Regions from separate parts of the Homo sapiens genome. Here region 2 is linked to region 1. A link means that fine-mapping ties the variant in region 1 to the expression of a gene that starts in the linked region. Tissue or cell type: unexposed skin. Region 1 holds a variant in brackets; the other region holds the start of a gene. All regions are shown on one strand. Distances are from middle to middle.

Evidence for each region. PIP is the estimated chance that this variant, and not a neighbour inherited with it, causes the effect.
Region 2: AMDHD1 starts here. The variant in region 1 is fine-mapped to the expression of AMDHD1 in unexposed skin (GTEx, PIP 0.99).

Annotation. Positions count from the first base shown.
Region 1 is chr12:95,968,096-95,975,870 of GRCh38, forward strand. HAL (histidine ammonia-lyase) reads right to left here. Exons shown (of 21, transcript NM_002108.4): 21 at 4,567-6,277. The coding sequence ends at 6,137. It overlaps AMDHD1 (amidohydrolase domain containing 1), which reads left to right. Exons shown (of 9, transcript NM_152435.3): 9 at 1-625. Among named protein-coding and RNA genes, the nearest start is that of HAL, 24 kb to the right of the region's middle. RefSeq lists enhancers at 2,010-2,655, 2,656-3,301. The variant T/G (reference allele first, on the strand shown) is at 4,896.
Region 2 is chr12:95,940,272-95,945,271 of GRCh38, forward strand. AMDHD1 (amidohydrolase domain containing 1) reads left to right here and starts at 3,060. Exons shown (of 9, transcript NM_152435.3): 1 at 3,060-3,264. The coding sequence starts at 3,128. CCDC38 (coiled-coil domain containing 38) reads right to left here and starts at 2,343. Exons shown (of 16, transcript NM_182496.3): 1 at 2,160-2,343.

The sequences.
Region 1 (7,775 bases):
AAATATTCTGTAGATTAATATGGTGGGGTATCACAAAAATGCCTTTGTGGGGAAAAGTAGGCTTGGCTTAAAATTTCCATTTTGTGTCTGTATTTCACATCTCAGTTTTTAAACTATATTTAGTGAACATTGAGGGATCGAAAGAAATCTAAGTGATACGCCCCAATGAAGCTAAAATATAGCCTTCTGTTAAGCAAATAGTATTTCCTTTCCCCAAGTAGTTCATTTTCTAGATGCTTGTCAAATGAATTAATGTCCTCTGATGAAGAGTGTCCTTCCGTTTCTAAGGTCTTCTCAATCTCAGCAATAGAGCTTCCCAGCAGCGTTCAAGACACATCATTTATACACAGGCACAGGGGCCTTCCTGAAATGGGTGCATTTTTACCAACTACAATCATGTAATTTTTTTGGAAATTTTTTAAAATTTTCGATTCTTTACATTACAATTGGGTGAAACACATTTTACAGCTCTCAATAAATGTTTGCTGTCGCTCTTATTGTTGTTGTTTCCTTTCAGCCTGGAAGTAGATCAGCAGCGTTGTCTATTAGAGTTTTTAGGAAATTACAAAATTATTTGTAAAGAGTCGATAATTATTTACATATAAATGGGTGTTTTTAAAAGCCATGTAAGTTGATTTGAAATCTTTTTAAGTGTTTCGATCATCTTTATAATCACAACTGCATTACCAAACTTGGTAAGAAATGATTTGAGAAGTAAAGATTAACTCTCCAAGTGATCACTAATTTCAGTTTAATAGAGCCTGAATGAATGAGGCTTTGCTGTAGTCAATATAAAGCAACTCAAAATGCCCCTCACTGGAAGGTTAAGGGTAACATTGCACATTGTTGTCATCATGAGAGGTGACAGCATGCTGGCAGTCCTCAGAGCCCTCGCTTGCTCTCGGCATCTCCTCTGCCTGGGCTCCCACTTTGGTGGCATTTGAGGAGCCCTTCAGCCCCCCTACTGCACTGTGGGAGCCCTTTTCTGGGCTGGCCAAGGCTGGAGCCCACTCCTTCAGCTTGCAGTGAGGTGTGGAGGGAGAGGCGTGAGCGGGAACAGGGGCTGCGTGCGGCGCTTGCGGGCCACCTGGAGTTCCGGGTGGGCGTGGGCTTAGCAGGCCCCGCACTCGGAGCAGCCGGCCAGCCCTGCTGGCCCCGGGCAGTGAGGGACTTAGCACGCGGGCCAGTGGCTGCGGAGGGTGTACTGAGTCCCCCAGCAGTGCTGGCCCACCAGCGCTGTGCTCGATTTCTCGCCGGGCCTTAGCTGCCTTCCCACGGGGCAGGGCTCGGGACCTGCAGCCCGCCATGCCTGAGCCTCCCACCCACTCCATGGGCTCCTGTGCGGCCCGAGCCTCCCTGACGAGCATCACCCCTGCTCCACGGCGCCCAGTCCCATCGACCACCCAAGGGCTGAGGAATGCGAGCCCATGGCGCAGGACTGGCAGGCAGCTCCACCTGCAGCCCCGGTGCGGGATCCACTAGGTGAAGCCAGCTGGGCTCCTGAGTCTGGTGGGGACTTGGAGAGTCTTTATATCTAGCTCAGGGATTGTAAATACACCAATCAGCACCCTGTGTTTAGCTCAAGGTTTGTGAGTGCACCAATCAACACTCTGTATCTAGCTGCTCTGGTGAGGACGTGGAGAGTCTTTTTTTTTTTTTTTTTCTGAGACGGAGTTTCGCTCTGTCGCCCAGGCTGGAGTGCAGTGGCGCAATCTCGACTCACTGCAAGCTCCGCCTCCCGGGTTCACGCCATTCTCCTGCCTCAGCCTCCCGTGTAGCTGGGACTACAGGCGCGCGCCACCATGCCCGGCTAATTTTTGTATTTTTAGTAGAGACGGGGTTTCACCGTGTTAGCCAGGGTGGTCTCGATCTCCTGACCTCGTGATCCGCCCGTCTCGGCCTCCCAAAGGGAGAGTCTTTATGTCTAGCTCAGGGATTGTAAATACACCAATCGGCACTCTGTATCTAGCTCAAGGTTTGTAAATACACCAATCAGCACCCTGTGTTTAGCTCAAGGTTTGTGAATGCACCAATCGACACTCTGTATCTAGCTGCTCTGGTGGGGCCTTGGAGAACCTGGGTGTGGAAACTGTATCTAACTAATCTGATGGGGATGTGGAGAACCTTTGTATCTAGCTCAGGGATTGTAAACGCACCAATCAGCGCCCTGACAAAACAGGCCACTAGCCTCTACCAATCAGCAGGATGTGGGTGGGGCCAGATAAGAGAATAAAAGCAGGCTGCCCGAGCCAGCATTGGCAACCCGCTGGGGTCCCCTTCCACACTGTGGAAGCTTTGTTCTTTCGCTCTTTGCAATAAATCTTGTTACTGCTCACTCGTTGGGTCCACGCTGCTTTTATGAGCTGTAACACTCACCACGAAGATCTGCAGCTTCACTCCTGAGCTCAGCAAGACCACGAGCCCACCGGGAGGAACGAACAACTTCAGACGCACCATCTTAAGAGCTGTAACACTCAGCCCGAGGGTCCGCGGCTTCATTCTTGAAGTCAGTGAGACCAAGAACCCACCAATTCCGGACACAATCACAATGGGGTCTCTGGAGCTCTGAACCTCATGCGATTATTTAAGAAGTCTTGAGACAGTGTAGGGGGCACACAGTTGCTGTGTGTGATGGCTCCCCTGTGACCAGTCACCTAGGCACTGAACATTTGGGGCGCAGGAGATACACATAAAAGCCAAAACGGAATGTTAGGTCGAGTCTTCCCTGGAACTCAAGCAACACAAGATTAGATTCTTCTATTGAAGAAACAAGAAGGAGAAGCACATCTGATTTTTCATCTAGGAGGCACTCACTTTAAACAAATAGCATTCATGCCTTTTTTGAAAGAAGACAGAAAAAGACATCTACCCAAACTGCCCTAGTCCTCCCAGGCCAGCGTGCTGCAAGCCCGTGCAACTGACGGAGTTTGCTAGGAATGCAGAACCTCTGGCTGGACCCAGACCTGCTGAGTCCGAATCTGCATGCTAATAAGCCCCGGGTGATTCACATGCACATTAAGGTCTGAGCAGCTCTGAGTTCTAAGCCCTAATCACACCAATCTTCACACTGTTCCTTAGGGGACAGTGAGCTGCTCAGGGCCATGCAATACGGTTCCCTCTGCCCAGAATGCTTTCCTTCTCTTCCTTACATGGGAAACTGGAGCTGGACGCCCTTCCCCACATTCCCACATCTCTATGATAGCCTTTGTAGCATTGTAATTTAACTGTCTTTTGTATGTTAGACTAATGAAGTCTACCCTCTGGGCTGAAACTAATGTTCTCCAACTATTTTTTACATTTACATTTACATTTACAATGTTTACATTTAATAAATTAATACTCTCAACAAAAGTAAGCAAAAAGGCAAAATGAGTTGGGAGCAGTGGCTCACGCCTGTTATCCCAGCACTTTGGGAGGCCAAGATATGTGGATCCCTGGAGGTCAGGAGTTCAAGACCAGCCTGACCAACATGGTGAAACCCCATCTCTACTAAAAATACAAAAATTAGCCGGGTGTGATGGCGCATACCCGTAATTCCAGCTACTCGGTAGGCTGAGGCAGGAGAATTGCTTGAACGCAAGAGGCAGAGGTTTGCAGTGAGCTAAGGTAGCATTATTGCACTACAGCCTGGGTGACAGAGCCGAGACTCCATCTCAAAAAAAAAAAAAAAAAAAAGCAAAATGAACCATAAAGAGAACCATAAAGTTTAATAAAAAGCAATCCAGTGACCAGACCCAAAAATCAGACACAGGTTTAAAGCAGTATGAAATGTATCTGCTTTTGAATTTTGCCGGTTGTAATGACTTTTTTTTCTTTTTCTTTTCTTTTTTTTCTTTCTTTCTTTTTTTTTGAGATGGAGTCTCACTCTGTCACCCAGGCTGGAGTGCAGTGGCACGATCTTGGCTCGCTGCAACCTCTGCCACCCAGGATCAAGCAATTCTCCTGCTTCAGCCTCCCGAGTAGCTGGGATTACAGGCACCTGCCACGGTGCCTGGCTAATTTTTGTAATTTTAGTAGAGACAGGGTTTCACCATCTTGGCCAGGGTGGTTTTGAAATCCTGACCTCGTGATCCACTCACCTTGGCCTCCCAAAGTGCTGGGATTACAGGCATGAGCCACTGCACCCAGCCTGTGATGGGATTTTATGCATGTGGTAGATTGTCAGATACAGGCCCATGGATCACGTCAAATCACATGCCCATGCCCTTGAGTGTTACCCTCCCAAATTGACTCTGGGCCTGGAACGTGACTCGCTTTAGCCAACAGGACATTAGCGAACGTGGCACAACAGGGACTTGAAAAGCCCTTGTTCTTTAGGGTTTGCCTCCTCCAGCTGCCCTGAGACAACTTGTGACAAAGACCAGGTGAGCCTGCGGGGCTGGGGAGGAAATCCTGATACCTCCAACTCTTTTGTTGCTAGCCAATGGGAAAAAGAGTGTACTGAGTCAAGCATATTGTTCTTAAAACGGTTGACATCTGTCAACTGAATCCTTCAGAAGCTTGATTAACTGCTGTTAGAGGCGCTTAACTTTGCTATAAATACCTAAGAATAAAGCGACACCATAAGGCAATTGAGACTTAGTTTATTCCATGTTTCCCTTGAAGTTCCCTTGAAGGCGTGTGCTGTCAGTTACTAATAGAGCTGTGTAGAAAACTCAGTGACAAAGTGTCATTTTGACCTGGAGGGCTGCAGGGGCTGAAAGAATCCAGCATTCCCCAAACTGGAGCGAAGAGCACCATGAGACCACTGGGGGTTACTGGCTCAATGGCAGCCCACGGATGACAATGCACAAACCTCATTTGTGTGTGTTCACATTTTGACAAGGAATAGCACCAAGAACAACCTTTAGGTAAACAGTCTCCTCAGCACATTTTTTGCTCCCTGAATTGCTGTG[T/G]GCAGCAGTTTTCACTTCAGTTTCCACCTGACAGGTTGTAAATCTAAAGGGTGAAAACTCTATTGTGAAATCCACTGTTCGGCCCATTTTAGATGGCAATTAGGTAGGCAAGGTGGCAAGTGTGTCTGTCCTCCTCTCCACCAGCTGTGGTTTTTAGAGCCACGGTTTCAGACCACTTGAAGGGCCTTGCACATATATGCACACACTGGTGCAAAGTCACAGAGCTTAGACTTGGGAAGCCAAGAGGTCATGTGACCCATCCTTCATCTGGACAGATACACTTAAGCCATCCCTGAAGGTCCTTTATCTTCTCGGGGAAAAAAATAGATGCAGTAATACACTCTAGGGCTCCATCTGACCTTTATCAATAGGACTTATTTTAATGATTACCATTACAGAAAGGAGGTTGGTTAATCCCCAAAGATTCCTTATCTGTGAAATGAGGAAGGTTACAATAAGAATGTGAATAGAGTACTAACACCAAGGAAGTGAAAATACTAACCTCAAACTCCCATGTAAGCATTTGGGGGATACGTGTAGTGATAAGTACAAAATACACAGTTTAATAAGAGCCACCCAAATAGCAATCTTTATATTCATTCCTTATCTCCTTTGCACATGAAACTCCTTGTTGGTTTTAATCACCTCTACAATTAATAGCTGAAGACCCTATTGACTACTCTTTACTATGATCCAATTAATAGAAGAAAAAAGCAGCTTAAGGACAAATTATGACTTAAAATGGTTATTTATGAAGGCATATTAAGGCATATCATGCAAAGTAAAATTAGCCAAAGAAAGTCAACTGGTGGAGAGCTTGTTGAAGCAAATTTAAAAAAAAAAAAAAAGGTTAACAAAAGTCTAATGTTTTTAGAAAAAATTGCTATCAATCTGTTTCCAAATTTGAATTCATCTAATGCTAAGAGTAAAAAACAGGCACATACAATTGTGGTTATTCTTCTCACCCTTAAGAGTGAGTGGCCTGTTGAAACTGTTAAGAAAGAAAGAAAAGTTTTATAATCTGAAAATACCTGGTGGGTCTTGAACCACGACAACAGGAACACAGTGCTGAATTTAGCAACTATAATACTGCCATCAGCCTAACCAACGTAGGCTTTAGAAGAACTGAATGATACAATGGATTGATCTACCTAGGAAAGTTCTCAGGTCTCTCCTTCAGCCTAGTATTGCTTTGTGCTAAACTGACTGCCCTCTCATCTGCTACTTCATGACAAAGCCCATTAAAGGTCCTCAGACTCCGGGATTTTGGTGGATTTCTTGTGCAGAAATTGCAGTGAAAAGGCTGTTGGAGAAAGAGGTCTTGATTCTGGAATATGCTCCATTCTGTATTTTTCAATGTATGGAGCAGCTACTTCCCAAACCTGAAAAGCAAGGACAAAACAAAGTTGAAATATTGACGACATTGTTTCCACATGCTATTAAACATCAACTTCATCCGAAGTCAAAACATACTCTATACATGACCAGACACAGCTGCTGTTTGCTTGCTTTTATTTTAAGCCATTTGACACATGACCTGTGTCAATTAGTCTTTGGTTGCATTAAAGACTGTAAATATACAAAGTCCAAAACTTTCTAAAGTCATCATAAAGATTTTAAGCTGCATACTTTTCCTAAGCAAAACAAGCAAGCAAATAACAAAACCCAGAGAATTCAGTGTGGATAGAGTGAAGGATAGTTGCTCCAGGGTCTTAACAGTACCTATGTGGTTTTTTTCTTGTTTTTTTGTTTTTTTTCTTTTTTTGTGAGACAGAGTCTCACTCTGTCGCCCAGGCTGGAGTGCAGTAGCATGATCTCAGCTCACTGCAACCTCCACCTTCCAGGTTCAAGCAATTCTTGTGCCTCAGCCTCCTGAGTAGCTGGGATTACAGGTGCATGCCACCAGGCCCAGCTAATTTTTGTATTTTTAGCAGAGATGGGGTTTCACCATGTTGGCCAGGCTGGTCTCGAATTTCTGGCCTCAAGTGATCCACCCACCACAGCTTCCCAAAGTGCTGGGATTACAGGCGTGAGCCACCACACATGGCCTGGACCTGTGTGTTTTCTAAAGCAAGCCTTAAATGGTAAAAGGCAGTGAATTGTATTTCCCTATTGCCTTATTTCCATGCCACAGGTGCTCTGTTCCTTTGACCCTGCTACTCAAAGCGTGGCCTGTGCCCCTGCAGTATCAGCATCACCTGGGACAAGTCAGAATCTTGGCCTTCACCCAGACCTACTGAATCCACACCTGCATTTTAACAAGATGCCCAGCAGATTCATAGCCACTTTAATGTTGGAGAGGCACTGCCTCAGATCCTTGGTTAGCTTTTGCCTCCCACCCACCAACCTCTTTTTTCTTTTTTTTTTTTTTTCTTAAGCATAACATCATCTCAAAGTAAGGCCCTGGACGGGCATGGTGGCATGTGCCTGTAGTCCCAGCTACTCAAGAAGCCAAAGTGGGAGGATCACTTGAGCCCAGGAGTTTGAGTCCAGCCTTGGCAACATAGCAAGACCCGCATCTCTAAAAAAATTTTTTTTTAAATTGAATGAAATTAAGGCCCTGTTTTTGGTTTATATCTGCTTTTTAACTGATTGCCACTGACAGCCAAGGAGCCTTTCCTATTATTTTTTATGACCTTAGCAAATGAATACTCTTAAAGGCTAACCTCTCGTATACCTCCCTCCTAGCACCAAAGTTGGCAGCAGGCAAGCAGCTTCCCCATCCAGAGTGCAGGGCATGCTTAGAAATAATGGGTGTGAAAATCACAGGGAAAAATCACTGCCCCAGAGCAGAGCAACTGTTTTAAGGAAATCAAGCGATTCTAGGGAACATAACACCCACAAGTTATTCAAAAGGTTTAAAGCACTTCAAAAACGATA
Region 2 (5,000 bases), 29 kb before region 1:
GGGGGACCTGAATCAGCTTCATGTAGAGTCTTAACATTCTGAGCTCCAGGGGAAGTGGGGAAAGAGGAGTGGGATTTGATAAGGCCCAGTCCTAAGTTTCTAAACCAACTCTAAATAAAATGAATAATAACACTGTCTACCAGATATTATTCGAATCAGTTTATTTGTTTTTTTGCAACAACCCCCTCTAAAACCCAATGAAAACGAATTTCCAGATGATCTCAATGTGAGATAAAAAGCAATGTTTATCTTCACATGCATATGAGGATTTAGACTGGTTCTCTCAGACCCAATGCCCTTCCATTTTTTTTTCCCACCTCCTCTCCGCCTACCTTGGACAAATACTAGGAAAAGGGGCTGTGAACTGTGTCCTTGGATGGTGTGGGGAGATCACAGTTAGCAATTTTTTGTTTACCTAAAAGCCAGGAGCCACTGGGTCCTTGGCCTGCTTAGATGCACGCTGCCGCTTCTGACTAGGTCAGAGCACAGCACAATGATGAGGAAATTACTTTCACCTTGACCTTTAAGGCACTGCTGGCGTCAGGCTATTTAGTATGGACGCTTCTGTTGACATTTCTGACTGCCCCTTTTGCGAAGTGAAAAAAAACAAACAAACAAACAAAAAAAAAAACTGGAGGTCAAGAGGAAGGAAGGATGGGTTAAGGAGTCAGCATATACAAGTCAGATAATGTGAAAAGTATTTTATAAGAGCTGCTATCGGGATGTTGGTTATTACCAAGGAAAAATGTGTCATCCTTATCCATCTATAACTACTGAACAGTAACTAAGGAAAGAAATTCACTCATCCTTTCTGCTTTTGCAAACCTCCTGTTTGCAGGAGCTTATCAGGTAATGTTGTCTGTCTGGACTGTGAATCAGATGCACAGTTCACCCACAAACATAAATACCTATGAAAAAGAAATATAATTTCTTTTAGACTCACCCAGAACTTGCAAGCTTTAAGTACATGGTCTGTGAAGTCAGGAGAGGAACTATACTATTGGCTGAAATCTAATCTTTAACTTAATTGGCCAGGAAGACAAATAGCAGGATTAAAACACACGAATAATAGTAATAATACCTATTACTTGTTTAGAGCTGGGCACTGGGCTAAGTGATTTATGTTTTATTTTATTTAAAACTCAGACAAGCCCATAAAGTAGAAACAGCTCTCCCTATGATGAGGATGAGAAAACGAGGCTTCGAGAAATTACTGTAAAGAAATTCCCCAAGGTCAAACAGCTTATAGGAAACAGAACTCAGACTAAGACAAGTTTATTGAACCCTATTTTTCTATAATTTTAACCCATCCTTTATACATACAATTGCATAGTTCTGCAAATATGCCTAAAATTGCAAAATGTAACTGATTAAAGTCTTCAGCAGAAATTTTATAATAGAAAATTTTAATATTTCTCTGTGAATTAGTGACTTTATGTGTTTCTATTCCCCACTATTTCTACTTCTCTTTTTAAAGACATAGAAATATATGTATGTATAAACTTTTTAAAAGCTATGCACACACACACACAAACAACCTGTTTGTGATTGTGTATATGAGCTGTGAATAATCTTCTGATGCCCCCTCCCCCCCACCCTTAGGGTCTCTTTCACTCACATTGTCTATATATTTTCCAATTTTTATCTTTCTCTTTCCTAACTGATCTCTCTTTTATAGGCCATAATATGAAGCTAAATTATATTCTTATTTATCGTGGTCATCTAAAGGAGTGTTTGCTTTCTGTTCCAGGTTTTTTTAATGAGACTAAATTAACTTTTATATTTTGTGGGTTTGCAGGCTTAGTCTGCTTTTATAGTATATTATTTGTGTCCACATCTATCACTTTTATTGTAAAGTCTTTACTGGGCAGGGAAAGCGCCTTTCCTATCTTTGTATGTTCCACAAGACTTAACACAGAGCTTGTGATAAACATGAATAAACGAAATCAAGTAATTAAGGACTCAAAAGCCTGGGCCTGGCAGTGTTTCCATAGCAATTGGTAGCAGGAAGCGACGAGGCTGAGAATCACAGACCATCTTCCATAAACTTGATTCTGTCTCCAATTTTGGTCGCAAGTTGCTTGTAGGCCCACCAGACACAGCTGAGGGGTGGGAGGGGGCATGCGGAGGGGCGGACACTGAGCTGAAACCTATTTTACCTCAGCGAGTTTGGATCCAGGAGCCTTTCCAACCTATCGTTCGGGAAGGCGTTGTGGGAAAAGTGGGCGGAGGTGCCAATCGATCCTCCAGTCTCGGCTCTATCCTCCCCCAGCCCGGTTCCCGGTCATCTCAGGGACCGTCTGGTAGCTGATCCCGGAACGCAGCTGGCCAACGGATAAGTGCGGGGCACCCGCCACCCGCGCGGACCCAGGAGCACCTCCCCTACCGCATCCCCCTCCTCCCCACCCCCAGGTTCCCTCGGCTCGCGGCCCTCCGCGTCCCGGGCTCCCGCCCCAGAACCTGTGGGCAGATGTTTCCTCCACGCAGTACCCTCCCGGGGCTCTGCCTCCAGGCTCGCGTCCCAGCACCCTAGGCAGAGGTTTCCCCCACTCTGTCCTCTCCCGGGGCTCTACCTCCAAGCTCCCGTCCCTGCCCCTGGGCACAGCTTTCCCCTACTCTGCCCTCTCCAGGAGCGCTATCTCCAGGCTCCCACCCCAACCCCCCGGGCAGAGGTTTCCCCCATGGCCCCCCTTCCGGGGCTCTACCCCAGGTTCCGGTCCCTCACTCCCGAACACTCCGGGTGCCCTCACCCAGCCAACCCTTGACGCGCTTCCACATACCACGTGATCCACACAGCTCACTTTGATCTCTCGGGGTGACCAAGCTTAAGTTTCCTTATCTGAAAAGTAGGGACACTAGTCTCCATCTCGTTTACTCGGGATGGGACAAGACGACCAAAAAAGAGAGGATTCCTCATCAGGTTTATTACTCGTTGCCATTCTTGCAATGATTACCGCCCCCGTTGCTGTGGTTGGGGGAGGCGAGCAAAGGGCAGCGGCTGCGAGCGCCCGCCCCCGCCCCACCCTCCCAGCCCCGGACAGCGCAGGCTGCGGCTTTTCGTCCTCCACTGAGTCCTGCCGGTGGCCCGAGCCCGGTGGCCTCCCGGCGACCCTCGGCGCGAGGCGACATGGCAAGCGGCCACAGCCTCCTGCTGGAGAACGCGCAGCAAGTGGTGCTGGTGTGCGCCCGCGGCGAGCGCTTCCTGGCGCGGGATGCGCTGCGCAGCCTGGCGGTGCTGGAAGGCGCCAGCCTGGTGGTGGGCAAGTAAGTGGCCGGGCGCGCAGGGTGGGGACCGCCACGGGCGGAGCTGGCCGCTCTTCCTCTCACTGTGCACTCTGGAGGGAAACAACGCCGTGAAAGCGTCCCTGCACAGAGATACACGGGCAAGCCAGCCTTTGGGGTACCTGTTGCTAACACGCTCTGCTGCTTGGGGTTGTCATTCCGTCCAAAGAGCTCAGAGAGGAACACCCCATTGGAACGCATCAGGGTCCTGCCTCTGCTGGTAAAATATCACTGTCCAACCATCAGAAGGGGTTGAGGTCCTCCCCAGTGCTTCTTAAAGGGAGGCCAGAAGACCACCTTTGTCAGGGTGGCCTGTGGTTATTTTATTCTTACGGCAGATTTCTGATTCCACCTGCGTCCCCCACTCCCTATCCCTAGAATTTTAGAATCAGCATCACTGGGGCTGGAGTTCTGAGACCTGAATTTTTCAAAAGTACCTTTCACATCCTCGTGATCTCGTACACTAAAGCTTTAGAACCACGGAGAACATTTAGACGATAATGGCCCTGAGTGATAATAAATCAAGATTTGACCATCAGAAAACAAGATATTTCTCTTACTCATCTGAGCTTCCTGCCAGATATGAATAAAAGAACAAAGTTTGAGGGCGACCTGGGGTAGCAAGGGAAGTTGGATGAGAATTTGAATCCAAAGCGTGCCATGGGACCACAATTGCACACGATCAATGAGTCTCACAAACTGACCACGGCTTATCTGAGGCAGTTTAGGGTTGTGCAAGAGCCCAGCTTTTAAGGGACTGTGGGTTGGTTTAATTTTATTTATTTATTTATTTATTTATTTATTTATTTATTTATTTATTTTTGAGACGCATGAGCCACTGCGCCCAGCCTATTTTTTGTTTTTTTGAGACAGGGTCTAGCTCTGTTGCCCAGGTTGGAGTGCAGTGGCATGATCTTGGCTCCACCTCCCAGGCTCAACTGCGATCTCCACCTCCCAGGCTCAAGCCATCCTCCCACCTCAGCTTGACAAGCAGCTGGGACTACAGGTGCACGCCACCACGCCAGGCTAATTTTTGTATTTTTTGTAGAGACAATGTCTCACTGTGTTGCCCAGGCTGGTCTTGAACTCCTGGGCTCAAGCCATCCACCTGGTTTGGCCTCCCAGTGCTGAGATTACAGGCGTGAACCACCACGCCCAGCTTGACTGGTTTATTTTTAATTAAGGGATGAAAACATTCCCAATTTACTATGAAAATATTATTTAAAATTTTGCTTAGAAAGTTGAAAAATATGTACCTGGGTTGGGACTGGAGTATCTTATAAAAATTATATCAATGCGACCAGGCACAGTGACTCACGCCTGCAATCCCAGCACTTTGGGAAGCTGAGGCAGGTGGATCACCTGAGGTTGGGAGCTCGAGATCAGCCTGGCCAACATGATGAAACCCCATCTCTACTAAAAATACAAACATTAGCCGGGCATGGCGGCGCACGTCTGTAATCCCAGCTACTCGGGAGGCTGAGGCAGGAGAATCGCTTGAACCCGGGAGGCGGAGGTTGCAGTGAGCTGAGATCTCGCCACTGCACTCCAGCCTGGGTGACAGAGCGAGACTCTGTCTCAAAAATAAATAAATAAATACATAAATAAAATGATACTAATGCACCAACATGAAGTCCTGGGTTCCAAGACATGTTCTATGTTCACATCAAAACCACAAAAAGTAGGGAAAGGAAAAGGAGGGAGCTGACTTGTGGTCT